Homo sapiens: one gene and its partner. The protein of the gene in region 2 purifies or fractionates together with the protein of the main gene of each other region. This does not show direct contact. Each region holds a gene or a part of one and is shown on either strand. Other genes may lie near its edges.

Evidence for each region. The genes of interacting proteins can lie anywhere in the genome.
Region 1: the proteins of HTR1E (region 2) and CFAP74 purify together in Homo sapiens (affinity purification with mass spectrometry; 2 studies listed by BioGRID and IntAct, with this or other methods). This does not show direct contact.

The regions. Positions count from the first base shown.
Region 1 is NC_000001.11:2,000,765-2,008,728, forward strand, and holds the start of CFAP74 (cilia- and flagella-associated protein 74), read right to left. Parts: upstream 3,023-7,964; 5' UTR 2,937-3,022; intron 1-2,936. UniProt on the Homo sapiens protein: As part of the central apparatus of the cilium axoneme may play a role in cilium movement. May play an important role in sperm architecture and function.
Region 2 is NC_000006.12:87,010,521-87,017,194, reverse strand, and holds the end of HTR1E (5-hydroxytryptamine receptor 1E), read right to left. Parts: intron 2,046-6,674; 5' UTR 1,861-2,045; coding exon 763-1,860; 3' UTR 516-762; downstream 1-515. UniProt on the Homo sapiens protein: G-protein coupled receptor for 5-hydroxytryptamine (serotonin). Also functions as a receptor for various alkaloids and psychoactive substances.

The DNA of each region.
Region 1 (7,964 bases), on a different chromosome or scaffold from region 2:
CCCTATTCTAGTATGTCCTCCTCTTAGCTACTTACAGGCATCACTGTAAGTCCAAATAAGGTCATATTCTCAGGTCCTGAGGCTTAGAGACAGCCCCGATGGCCACGGTGCCACTGTGTGGATGAATCTCTCGCACAACCCCGAGGAGAAAAAGACAGAGGCCCGCCTGATGCTCTTCCTCTCCCCCTTCCCTTCACTGTCACAGTAGGTTCCCTGGGTAGGGCAGGTGGAGCAGGATCCACAGTGGCCCAGGCTGGGCTGTCGGAGCCTGGCTGGGTGAGGAGGGTGAGGGTATGTGGCTGAGGCTCAGAGCTGTTTGCAGGTGCCTGGCTGGGTGAGGAGGGTGCCGGTGTGCGTGGCTGAGGCTCAGAGCTGGATGTCAGAGCCTGAGAAGAAAGAGGGCGGCCCCAGGTGTGGTCCAGCAGAGGGTATCAGAGCCCAGGCAGGAGAAGAAGGTGTCCACCATGAGAGCCTCCCAGGCCAAGCCTGGGAGTGATGACATATTTGCATAGCTTCCAAATACCTCCTACAAAATGCTTGTGTTTTTGTTTTGTTTTGTTTTTCATTTTGTTTTTTTTTTTTTGAGACGGAGTCTCGCTCTGTCGCCCAGGCTGGAGTGCAGTGGCGCAGGGTCGGCTCACTGCAAACTCCGCCTCCTGGGTTCACGCCATTCTCCTGCCTCAGCCTCCCGAGTAGCTGGGACTACAGGCAACCGCCACCACACCTGGCTAATTTTTGTATTTTTAGTAGAGACGGTTTCACCGTGTTAGCCAGGATGGTCTCGATCTACTGACCTCGTGATCCGCCCTCCTCAGCCTCCCAAAGTGCTGGGATTACAGGCGTGAGCCACTGCACCCGGCCAAAATGCTTGTTAATTACGAAGGAAAAAAGAACTTCCCAGTGGAGATGTTGGCAGATACCACCTTAATCAAGAGCTCAAAGTGAACATCATCAGTAACGTGACAACGTGACCACTGTGAGCCACTGACTGGATGGAATGAACAGGCCACGGTGTCACCTCTGCGACTTTCCTGTCCGAGACGTGCAGTGGGAATCTAATCACGAGGACACAGCAGACGAAACCAAATGGAGGGACTTTCTCCAAAGTAATTGGCCCATGACCTTCAGAGGTGTCAGGGTCATGACAGCCAAAGCAAGGCCAAGGAATGTTCTGGACTGAAGGGGAATAAAGAGGTATGTGAGAATTCAGTGCAAAGTGACTCTAGGCTGGATCCTTCCACGCTGGGGCCCTGATGCAATCAACTGGCAAAGCGTGTTTGACAGGCTGAGGGGTAAACACGGCAACAGGCCTGTGTCCTCTCCTGACTCGGGCCATGTGTGGCTGTGTTGGAGAATGTCCTCGTTTGTGGAAAATACACTCTACAAGGGTGGGGGGCGACAGAGCATCATGAAGGCAACTTACTCTCAAATCCTTCACGAGAAGTTTTTTTGTGCTGAGCTTGCAACTTTTATACAAGTTTGGGATTGTTTCAAAAAATGTTAAAGAATGTATGTGGTATTACATAAAGTTTATATATATTATTAAACTTATATAAACCTTATATAATACCACACATATTCTTTAAAATTTTATATAAATAAATTTATATAAAATTTAAAATAAATGAAAGTTGGCTGGGTGTGGTGGCTCACCGCCTGTAATTCCAGCACTTTGGGAGGCGGAGGTGGGTGGATCATTTGAGATCAGGAGTTCAAGACCATCCTGGCCAACACGCGGAAACCCCGTCTATACTAAAAATACAAAAATTAGCCAGGCATGCTATAATCCCAGCTACTTGGGAGGCTGAGGCAGGAGAATCGCTTGAACCCAGGAGGTGGAGGTTGCAGTGAGCCGAGATCGCCCTGCTGCATTCCAACCTGGGCAACACAGTGAGACTCTGTCTCAAAAAAACAAAAATTTAAAGAATATATGTAGTATTATATGAAGTTTAATATATATTATTAAACTTACATAAAACTATATGTGGCATTATATATAGTCTATATATTTATATTATATATTGTTTATATAACACCACATATATTCTTTAAAATTTTATATAAAGTTTATATAAAGTTTAAAATAAGTGAAAGTTAACTATATTGTTTAGGGACACATGCATAGGTAGTAAAACTAAAGAAATTTATATATCATCTTTAAAATTTTATATAAATATAAAGTTTATATAAAGTTTAAAATAAGTGAAAGTTAACTATATTGTTTAGGGACGCATGCATAGGTAGTAAAACTAAAGAAAAAGTCAGCCATGGTCAAGAAGAGCGGGTCTGTGAGTGGCATGGGGGAGAGACTTTGGGGTGCTGATGAGGTTCTATTTCTTAACTTGGGTAGTGGCTACTGATGTTCGATTTATAACCAATCTCTAAGTCGCACATGCGCATTTATGCACCATCGTTATGCAGAGAATATCAGTCCATTTCTTTTCAACTGTGGGCCCTACAGCAGGCCTGCTTACTACCTCAGTACCTGGCTTATGCAGATAAAAGGAGTATTCCTTTAAGAAAAACAAAATACTAGAGGCAAATCAGCTTCCAAAACTAGGTTATACATACTAAAACTAAATGACTTTGGGGCTATGGACCATGCTCTCCTTTTTAGCTAGGCAGACACTCACGAGTCTTAACTGTTCACCAGACAGGCTGGCCCTTGATTTTTGTTTAATGTTTTTGTAAATGTGTTATAATAATACTTTATTATAACATCTGCTGCAAAGTCAGGGGCGGGTCCCTCAACAGAGGCTGTGCCAGCGCCGGGGTTCCCTGAAACGAACCAGGGACTAGAACTATTAACAAAGTCATTTTTCTGGCACAGCTTTCCGGGAAAGGCGTTTCATATGGGACGGAGTTCTGCCTGGGGGGCGGGGGTCAAACCCTTCCAGCTCAGCCCCAGGGTCAAACGCATCCGCCCCCACACCCACCTCTGGCTGGCCTGGGTCCCAGGTTCTCGGGCTCCGGAGGCACAGACACCCCGGGCTGCTCAGGCAGGCGGCGGTCCTTGGCGATTGCCCTCCGCGGCGCCGGCGGCGTGGTTTGGGGCGGGCAGCTCCATGGCAACGGAAGACTCCATCGTGGCCGGAGGGGGAGCCTCGCCCGTTCTGCTCCCCGGCTGGAGCGGGTGGTTTGGTCCGACCCACCACCGACCGCGCGGGCCGGGGCCGGGGCAAGGAGGTCGCGGGCCCCGAGGCGCGGCTGAAGGGCCAGGCCACAGGCCGCGGGGCGGGGACGTCTCCGGGGTCCCAGACAGCCAGGCCTGGCCCAGGGCCAAGGCTTGGAGGTGACAGACAGACTTGGGGGGCCTGGAGGAGCTCAGCACCGGCGCGTTGGCCCAGAGGACCGGGGCGGGTGCATGATGGTTTGGAGTCGTTTGTCAACCTAAAAAACTAGGAGGTTTCCCGTGAAAATGGGGATTTTCCTCTTCTCTTGCAAATGGAAGATCGGGCTGGGCGCGGTGGCTCACACCTGTCATCCCAACAATTTAGGAGGCCGAGGTGGACGGATCACTTGAGGTCAGGAGTTCGAGACCAGCTTCGCCAACATGGTGAAACCCCGTCTCTTCTAAATATACAAAAATTAGCAGGGCATGGTGGCAGCTGCCTGTAATCCCAGCTACTCAGGAGGCTGAGGCAGGAGAATCGCTTGAATCCAGGAGGAGGAGGTTGCAGTGAGCCAAGATCGTACCACTGCACTCCAGCCTGGATGACAGAGTGAGACTCCGGCTCAAAAAAAAAAAAAAAAAAAAAAAGACTTCTGAATGTTATGTTCCAGCAAAGGCTCCAACTGAAAAATTGTAAAAGTAAATAGCAAAGTCAGTGAGCTATGATGGTGCCATCACACTCTGGCCTGAGCGAAATCAAGACCCTGTTTCAAAATTAAAAACAGCAAAAACCCGGTTGGGCACAGTGGCTCATGCCTGTAATCCCAGCACTTTGGGAGGCTGAGTTGGGCAGATCACTTGAGGTCAGGAGTTCGAGACTATCCTGGTCAACATGGTGAAACCCTGTCTCTACTAAAAATACAAAAATTAGCCGGGTGTGGTGGCGCACACCTGCAGTCCCAGCTACCCCAGAGGCTGAGGCAGGAGAATCGTTTGAACCCGGGAGGTGGAGGTTGCAGCGAGCCAAGATTGCGCCACTGCACTCCAGCCTGAACGACAGAGCGAGACTCTGTCTCAAGACAAACAAACAAACAAAAAACAAAACGGAAGATGGGCCCAACATGCCAAGCCGGTTCCGACGTTCCCCATTGCCTTTCCCACAGTCCCCATCCCCCGCTGCCCAGCCCATCTCACTGTGCATCCTGTTACACCGGAGCCTCTTCTCGCACCGCTGGTCCGTGGGGGCCGTTTGCAATGGAGACATGGGAGTGTGAGGAAAGGGAGTGGTCTCTCACCGGGCCACTCTATGCCAAGAACTGGGCTCACGAGTGAATTGGACGCGTCCCCTACCCTGGCAGTCTTTCAGCCCGCCATGTGTAGGGCTTGCAGGGTGGCCGGCTCCTGATGCCACAGTGAGGCCTGGGAGGTCCTTTGGTTTTATCCTGGCCCATAACCTGATCCATCAGAGGCAAGACACCTTGCAGAATGCCCAGCACCCGTGAGAATGGCTGTGGAAAGTAGCTGGGTGACACCACAGCACCTCTGCACTCACCCACCTTCCGCAGTGCCAGATCGCTTTCCTCCTCAGAATCTGAGGAATAGAACCAAGCCACCATTACCAGCCCAGGTTCGCTTTTATAAGAGAGATTATACTTCTTCCCGACTCCACGGAAATGATAGGGCTTCTTCCTTATCAACTTTGCCTCCCTGGACCTTTCCCAATGAACTGTTAATATACTTTCTAGGAAAGGGCCGGGCACAGTGGCTCACGCCTATAATCCCAGCACTTTGGGAGGCCAAGGCAGGTGGATCACCTGAGGTCAGGAGTTCGAGACCCGCCTGGCCAACATGGTGAAACCCCTGTCTACTAAAATACAAAAACTAGCTGGGCGTGGTGGCGCATGCCTGTAATCCCAGCTACTCGAGAGGCTGACACAGGAGAATCACTTGAACCTAGGAAGCAGAGTTTGCAGTGAGCCAAGATCACACTACTGCACTCCAGCCTGGGCAACAGAGCGAGACTCCAACTCTCTCTCTCTCTCTCTCTCTCGTTCTCTCTCTCTCTCTCTCTATATATATATATATACTGTCTAGGAAAGAAGGAAAGGACAGTGACAGCCTGAGAACAGCCCCGTGTCCATGGAACTGGTTGGTTAAGGAAGCTGTGGAACAGCTACACGATGGAGGTCAGCTGTAAAGAAGGTATAAGGACCATTTATTTCTATGTTCTGCTGTGGAGTGACTCCAGAACATATTGTTAAGTAAAAAAAATTGAGCCAGGCATGGTGGCTTGAGCCTGTAGTCCCAGCTACTTGGGAAGCTGCAGGATGGATTGCTCAAGCCCAGGAGTTTGAGGCTACAGTGAGCTATGATTGTACCACTGTACTCCAGCCCTGGCAACATAGTGAACCCCATCTCAAAAAAGAAAAAAAAAATCCAGCCAGGTGCAGCGGCTCACGCTTCTAATCCCAGCACTTTGGGGGGCAAGGTGGGAGGATCGCTTGAGTCCAGGAGTTTGAGACCAGCCTGGGCAACATGGTGAAACTCTGACTCTAAAAAAATACAAAAAAAATTAGCCGGCCATGGCGGTGCACACCTGTAGCCCCAGCTACTCGGGAGGCTGAGGTGGGAGGACCTCTTGAGCCTGGGAGATTGATGCTGCCCTGAGCTGTGACTGTGTCACTGCACTCCAGCTTGGGTGACAAGTGAGATCCTGTCTCAAAAAAAAAAAAAAATCAAGATGCAGAAAAGTGTGTATAGTATTTATGTAAGAAGGAGCAGTGGCAATAAGAATATATATATATTTTTACATTAAAAAGGTTACTATCTGGGGCAGAAGGACACAGGAATAGAAAGTAGATCTCTTTAAATGTGCTTACATTCAGTTATAGAACTGTGTAATTAGAAAACCAAAAATAAATCAAAATAGAAAAGCATCTAAAACTTGGAGACAGAATGAAACAAATGAACCTAATTGTATGGCATGTGGGGGGGTTAGCCATACAAAAAAGGATAATTTTGAGTGACTTTTTATTTTTATTTTTAGACAGAGTCTCGCTGTGTCACCCAGGCTGGAGTGCAATGGAGTGATCTTGGCTCACTGCAACTTCCACCTCCTGGATCCAAGCAATTCTCCTGCCTCAGCCTCCCAAGTAGCTGAGATTACAGGCATGAGCCTCAATGCCTGGCTAGTTTTTTGTATTTTTAGTAGAGATGGGGTTTCACCATGTTGGCCAGGCTGGTCTCGAACTCCTGAGCTCAAGTGATCTGCCCGCCTTGGCCTCAGAAAGTAACTTTTTCAAAGAGACAATGTCTGGCTCTGTTCCCCAGACTGGAGTGCGGCGACTCCATCATGGCTCCCCGCAGCCTCCACCTCCTGCGCTCAAGAGAGCCTCCCACCTCAGCCTCCCAAGCAGCGGGGACTACATGTGTATACCACCATGCCCAGCTAATTCATTTCTATTTTATTTTATTATTATTATTTTTTGAGACAGAGTCTCGCTCTGTCGCCCAGGCTGGAGTGCAGTGGCGCAATGTCAGCTTACTGCAAGCTCCACCTCCCAGGTTCATGCCATTCTCCTGCCTCAGCCTCCCGTGTAGCTGGTCATTTTTATTTTTATTTTTGCAGAGATGAGGTCTCACTATCTTTTCCAGGCTGGTGTAGAACTCCTGGCCTCAAGAAATCCTTGAGTTGCAGTGAGCTGAGATGTGCAACTGCACTTCAGCCTGGGCGACAGAACAAGACTCCATCTCAAAAAAAAAAAAAAAAGAAAAAGAAAAAACAAATAAGTAATACAGGGAAGGTGGTTAAGTTTTGTGTATATTTTACCACATTAAAAAGTTTTAATCAGGCCATGCGCAGTGGCTCACACCTGTAATCCCAGCACTTTGCAGGGCCAAGGTGGATGGATCACTTGAGGTCAGGAGATCGAGACCAACCTGACCAACATGGTAAAACCCCGTCTCTACTAAAAATACAAAAATTAGCTGGGCGTGGTGGTGGGCACCTGTAATCCCAGCTACTCGGGAGGCTGAGGCAGGAAAATCACTTGAACCCGGGAGGCGGAGGTTGCAGTGAGCCTAGATTGTACCACTGTACTCTAGCCTGGGCAACAGTGCAAAAACTCTGTCCAAAAAAAAAATTAAATCAAATAAAATGTAAAATTGCATTCCTCAGTGGCAGTAGCCACATTGCAGGTGCTGAGTAGTCCTCTGTGGCCGGTGGCTACCCCAGTGGACAGCACAGACATGAAACAAGGACCCTCATTCCTGGGATTGTGCTGGACTACAAACGGTCACCAGTCCCGGTGCGAGGAGCACACAGACCATTGTTTCTTCCTGCCATTTCCCTTGAAAAGAAACCATGGCTTCTTGGAAAAATGACGGATTTCAGACATGAGGCAGAAAACATACAAGATGACCCCAGAACATCTCATCATAACAGCAAGCAGGAAAATTAACACAGATTCTAGTTTGTCTCGGAGGATCCATTTGCCAGTTTGAAGGGGCTCTCACTGGCGAAAGTAAGCATCAACTGAGTATCAAAAGGAAAAGTAAATTGCAGTGGATTGAAGCACTTCAAATATATTAGTGTCCACGAGTTCATTCAGCCTGGGCGACATAGTGAGACCCCGGCTCTATAAAAAATAATTTAAAAAAATTATCTGGAGCCGGGTGAAGTGGCTCACGCCGGTAATCCCAGCACTTTGGGAGGTTGGGGCGGGCAGATGACAAGGTTGGGAGTTCCAGACCAGCCTGGCTGACATGGTGAAACCCCATCTCTACTAAAAATACAAAAATTAGCCAGGCATGGTGACAGGTGCCTGTAGTCCCAGGGACCCAGGAGGCTGAG
Region 2 (6,674 bases):
TCAGGTAATATTGCAACACACTGACCAAAGTAGATTTAGATGACTTGTTATTTGCTTTATGTTTTATATTCATAGTAAAAGACATAGAAAAGTGCCAGTGCATTTATTCCAGGTATTTCCATTTTAGAAAAAGAGGAAGTTTATTTAATCATGAACTAAAAAGGACAAGCCAGCTGTACTATTTTTACCTGAAATGAATAGGCTATGTAGTCACAGTGCTACAGCAAACGACTTTAGCTCAGGTCTGCAAGCAGTAGATGACAGCACATCACTTTCTTTTAATTCTTTATGTAGTCATGCAATTCCCACTGGAATATGTACGCAGATAGAGCCATAATCTCAGATTTAATGCCATGGAGGGCATTATCAGGTATTTAATTTATAAGTAATAAGAAATTCTGCAAATAAAGATATTTTTGGCATTCTTTAATTGCAGGGTAACTGAAATGGCTAAAAAAAAAAAACCCATAAAAGGTATTTAGTATTTCATCTTATTATTACTTCTACAAAATTTCTGTTTTTGTATGATAATGTTTATTTGAAATTATGTATCACAGATAAGACCAGAGGTAGAAAACAGCACGCCAAATAACAATCCTCAAACAAAACAGAACAAAACAAACAAACAAACAAGGAAACAAGACCACACATACTTACAAACTCTCCTGAACCAAGTATGTTCAAGAATTAATAAGTTGCACCCCTTACCCCCATCCACTCATGAGGCTCTGGAAAAAGTCGTGCCTTTTAGCTTTTTACAGTCTAAGTATGCTCTCGGCATCTAATGAGCTTTTTAAAAGCCAGCTTAAAGTCTTCATTAAAACTCGTATAGAGCAGAGGGTTGATCAGAGAATTCACATAACCGAGCCACGTCAGAAAGTCGGCCACTTCCGAGGACACGGTGTAGATGCTCAGACCCACAATCAACTCTTTGATGAAAAATGGCAGCCAGGATAAAATGAATGCACCCAGAATCAGCCCCAGGATGCGTGCTGCCTTCCGTTCCCTGGTGCTAGAGATCTGCTGACGTTCTCCTGGGTGATCTAGATCATTGTCGAAGGGGGGGATCCTGATGGAGGCATGGAACTTTTCAAACTCTGTGGTAGGGTCTGAGGTGGAGAAGTCAGACACACAGAAAGTCTGTGTAAGTTTACAACTTGCAAAAGAATTCTGGCTATCTGTGCTTCTGTTGCTTAAGTGCCGACTTGATCCCCTTTTCTGGTAAAGGCTCTTGGCCGCGTGGTAAATCCGGTAATAGAGAATCAGTATCAAAGTCAAGGGGATATAAAACGCACCCAGCGTGGAGTAAATGGTGTAGATAACATGGTCGTGCTGGATGGTGCACTGACTAGGGGGAGGGCTTAGGCGGCGGTGGCTTCTCCAGAACAGAGGGGGCATGGAGATGAAAATGGAGATGGTCCAGACGGTAAGGATCATCAGCGCGGCCCTCTTGGCCGTCCTCTTCCTGGCGTATTCAATAGCATTGGTGATGGCCCAGTACCTGTCCAGGGCAATGACACAGAGGTGGAGGATGGAGCAGGTGCAGCAGGTCATGTCCACACTCAGCCACACCTCACAGAGGAAGTACCCAAGCTTCCAGCGATCCATGACAATGTAGATGATGCTCAGGGGCATGACGAGCACTGCCACCAGGAGGTCCGTCACGGCCAGAGAACAGATTAGGTAGTTGGCAGGCTGGTGGAGCTTCTTGGTGGTGCCAATAGCCATGATCACAGCCAAGTTCAGCAACGTGGTGAGGGTGGTGATGACCACCAGAGTCATGCAAATGAGCATCTTCTCAGTGATGGTCTTGGGTCTTATAGCCATGCTGGCCTCTGTGGTACAGTTTGTGATGTTCATGTTTCCCTTGTTTCAGTCTACACTGTGGAGAAGCTGTTGGTTATTTTCCTTTGGCTGAAAACTATGTAGCCTCGAAGGTTTCTCACTTGTAAGGAGGCTATAATTTGTTCAGCTATGTGGTCTCTTGTGTTCCATTTTCTGTTGGTAAAGGGAAGGGCCACAGCATTTCTTCTGAGTGAAGGTTCCTGGAAAATATTATGCTATTGGTTAATGAATGAGAAAGCCACACTTTTCCTGGAAAACATGAAAATAGTTTGATATTTATAAATTCTTTATAAATTTTAATTTTCTCTTTCCTGTGGAACTTGAGCTCATCGTTACATTGTTCCTCAAAGGATACTTTTTTTACTTCAGGGAAGTTTTCAAACTGTTTTTTTTTAAATTATACTTTAAGTTCTGGGATACATGTGCAGAACTTGCAGGTTTGCTACATAGGTATACATGTGCCATGGTGGTTTGCTGCACCCAACAACCAATCATCTACATTAGGTACTTCTCCTAATGCCATCCCTCCCCTAGCCCTCCACCCCCCAACAGGCCCTGGTGTGTCATGTTCCCGGCCCTGTGCCCATGTGTTCTCATTGTTCAACTCCCACTCGTGAGTGAGAGCATGTGGTGTTTGGTTTTCTGTTCCTGTGTTAGTTTGTTGAGAATATGGTTTCCAACTCATCCATGTCCCTGCAAAGGACATGAACTCATCCTTTTTTATGGCTGCATAGTATTCCATGATGTATATGTGCCACATTTTCTTTATCCAGTCTATCACTGATGGGCATTTGGGTTGGTTCCAAGTCTTTGCTATTGTGAATAGTGCTGCAATAAACATACATGTCCATGTGTCTTTAGAGTAGAATAATTTAAAATCCTTTGGGTATATACCCAGTAATAGGATTGCTGAGTCAAATGTTATTTCTGGTTCTGGAACCTTGAGGAATCGCCATACTGTCTTCCACAATGGTTGATCTAATTTACACTCCCACCAACAGTGTAAAAGCATTCCTATTTCTTCACATCCTTTCCAGCATCTGTTGCTTCCTGCCTTATTATTATTATTATTATTATTATTATTATTATTATTATACTTTAAGTTCTAGGGTACAGGTGCACAACATGCAGGTTTGTTACATATGTATACATGTGCCGTGTTGGTTTGCTGCATCCTTTAACTCGTCATTTACATTAGGTATTTCTCCTAATGCTATCACTCCCCCGTCCCCCGACCCCACGACAGGCCCGGGTGTGTGGTGTTCCCTGCCCTGTGTCCAGGTGTTCTCATTGTTCAATTCCCACCTATGAGTGAGAACATGTGGTGTCTGGTTTTCTGTCCTTGCGATAGTTTGCTCAGAATGATGGCTTTTTAATGATCACCATTCTAACTGGCGTGAAATGGTATCTCATTGTGGTTTTGATTTGCATTTCTCTAATGACAGTGATGATGAGCTTTTTTTCATATGTTTGTTGGTTGCATAAATGTTTTCTTTTGAGAAGTGGCTGTTCATATCCTTCGCCCACTTTTTGATGGGGTTGTTTGTTTTTTTCCTATAAATTTGTTCAAATCGTTTTTGACAAAAACATCACAAAATTTTAAATGTACTTTGCCACCCCAATTAATTTCTTATTTATATTTATTCTTTTATACATGTTTATATATAAAAAGGCTTTTTTTTACATTTGAAAATATATATTCATATTATGTAACATTAAACATTCTGGGGCCGTTAAAGAAAAAATTATATTGCTTATAATAAGCAGCTTTCAAATCAGATTTTAAACTTTCACAGTAAATATGCTGGCGTGGTGGCTCACACCTGTAATCCCAGCACTTTGGAAAGTTAACTGCAATAATCAGAGCTAAAAATGGATACATCCTATGAGGAGTTGATGGAGGACCTTTTTGGGGATTTGTAACTTTAAATTTCCACTTTATTGTGACATAAAAAATATCATGAGTCCAAGGCCATATTTAAATTGTTTTTCATAAAAATTACAAATAGGAGAGAATTACTCTAAACCAAACTGGTTAGTGTACGCTGCTCCTCATTTCCAGGGATACTCTAGAGCCTCTGCTTTATACCATCCCAGTGAAGGTCAGAGCACCAGGGAGATGAGGTTATAGGGATGATAGATGTTAAGGCCGACTTTGGCATATTATTCTTCTGGGGCTTTGTCCTTTGCAGCAGATGAAGAGGGACAAGAATCTCTTTCTCATCCAGGAAGAGTTTCCAAAGCACCTAAGCATTATCAAGAAGGAGGAGTCAGCTGGCACCTGCTCATCTTAAAAATTATCTTAAAGAGGGTTTTATATTTTGGATCTGGTTCCTCCATTAGAAAACTGACATTTCACTTCATAAGTCCTGATTTACTTTAACCTAAAAAGTGTGCCTGAGTCAGCGGTTTTGGAGAGAAAGCTTGGAGTGGTGACTACCCACATGGACTCTGAATGCTGACCCTGCCACTTGTCAGCTGCAGTGTAATCCTAAGCATGTTCTTTAACGTTAGCCTGCTTCAATTTCCTCCTCTTTAAATCAGGAATAATGACATCTTTCTCTAAAGTAAGTAGTGTGAAGATCAAATGTGTTAATACACGTAGAAGCTGAGAACAACGCCTAATACATAGTAAGTACTATGTAAGTGTTTGCGGTCATTTGTTATACTAATTTTCCCAGTGATTTTTGCATTGGGTAATGGAGACAGATTTCATCCCACAAACTCTGATGTGTAATAAAAGCCTATTAAAAATAAGTCAACTTAATTTTGTTCTTTCTTTTTTTTCTTTCCAACTTTTATTTTAGGTTTTGAGGGTACAAGTGCAGATTTGTTTCATGGGTAAACTGTGTGTTGCAGGGTTTGGTGTACAGCTTATTTCACCACCTAGGTAATAAGCATAGTACCCAAAAGGTAGTTTTTCAAATCTCACCCTCCACTCACCCTCTACCCTCATGTAGGCTCTGGTATCTATTGCTCCCTTCTTTGTGTTCATGTGTTATTCAATATTTAGCTCCCGGTTATAAGTGAGAACATGTGTCAACCTAATTGCTGCTTCTAAGCTTCTCACTTCTCATGCTTGAGACTTTCTCTAACCCCAACCACACCCCCAAGTCTCTGGAGGATTATTTAGGGCCAAGGCATTGAGGTTTGGTTGGGGAGAGGGGTTTCAGATGTTGCATGCACAGAGAAAGTCCCTGGTAAGATATTTACTGTCCCCCACTCCTACAGTTCTTTCAGATCCCCAGACTGCTTCCGTAACACGCTTAGGAAATGTCCTAAGGTTGGGAACCCCATGCCTAGCCCCTAAGTCCCTAGCCACACCATGCATGTATCCCTTTTTAAAATATTATAGACTCTTCAAGGCACTTCCAGAACTTCTGGCCCAAGTCTTAGACCCCCAGGATCTTTTCTGTTCCTCCATTTTGCGCGGGAAAGGTATGTAGACCATTGGAGAAATTCCTTTCTTCCTTCATTTTTTTTTCTAACCCTTTCAGCCACCTATTAAAAGCTCTCTTTTCCTTTTTTACTTATTTACAAATCTTTTATTAATAAATCTCCTATGGGCTTGGCTTTTGAGAACATAAATAGGGATTACTGTCTGATACTTCCGCTTTCTGAAATATCTGTGAGGTAAGGAAGCATAAACCAGGCCACATGCTTGACTGAAGGAAAGGGAAAAAATAGAAAATAGCATCCAGCCATACATGTAACATTTCTTGTTGACATATTCCCCTTTCCTAGCATTCTTAGAGTTATCTGAAATATGGGACAAATATCCTTACCACAAAGTTTTGCTAAGACTTTGAATTACCAGAAAATATTATATAACGTCTCAACCATTAAAAGTTTAACATGCTGGTGGACCTGGAGCATTCCTGATCAACTCATTTACGTTGCATGTAACCACCATCATTTAGAGAATATTTTCCTGAACTGCTTTGAAGGAACCCAGGGTATACTTGCCTTTCTCTATTTACTTCCCAGCATTTTCCCAGTCAACCTGTGTTAAGTACTGACTTCTGTCCATTCCTAGACACTTCCAGATACCACTTCCCTTTGATAAGTCATTCCCTCCTGCTGCAAGGTTTCTGTTTTGCACATGGCCTCTAAACTGATCCAGGAAAACTGCCCTCAACTCTGTCAGCTTAGCCACCCTCTCTCCTAGCAGCATTTCCTGGCTCCACATGATGTTCTGGGCTGCAATTGCTTTACCTCTTGCCTACCAAAAATTCAGAGGTCACATAGTAGCTATTGCAAATGGAGTTGAAGCTGTCTAAAGTCAATGTATTAAAAGTTTAAGCATCTTAGACCAATAACTACTTTAAAGAAACCACAGAGAATCAAGAAACATGTTAAACTACCTTTTGATTATGCAATCATTGGAATCCAAACTGTAAAAAAATTCACGGGTTAAATCACCCAGTTTCTTAAATAAATTGCAGACAAGGAGGGCGATAAGAAGTGTGGCGTATAGGCCGGCGAGCGCCGCCCGGGAGGCAGCGGCTGGAGGAGCGGACGGGCCCCGCGGGGCCCGAGGGCAAGGAGCAGCCGCCTGCCTTGGCCTCCCAAAGTGCCGAGATTGCAGCCTCTGCCCGGCCGCCACCCCGTCTGGGAAGTGAGGAGTGTCTCTGCCTGGCCGCCCATCGTCTGGGATGTGAGGAGCCCCTCTGCCTGGCTGCCCAGTCTGGAAAGTGAGGAGCGTCTCCGCCCGGCCGCCATCCCATCTAGGAAGTGAGGAGCGCCTCTTCCCAGCCGCCATCACATCTAGGAAGTGAGGAGCGTCTCTGCCCGGCCGCCCATCGTCTGAGATGTGGGGAGCGCCTCTG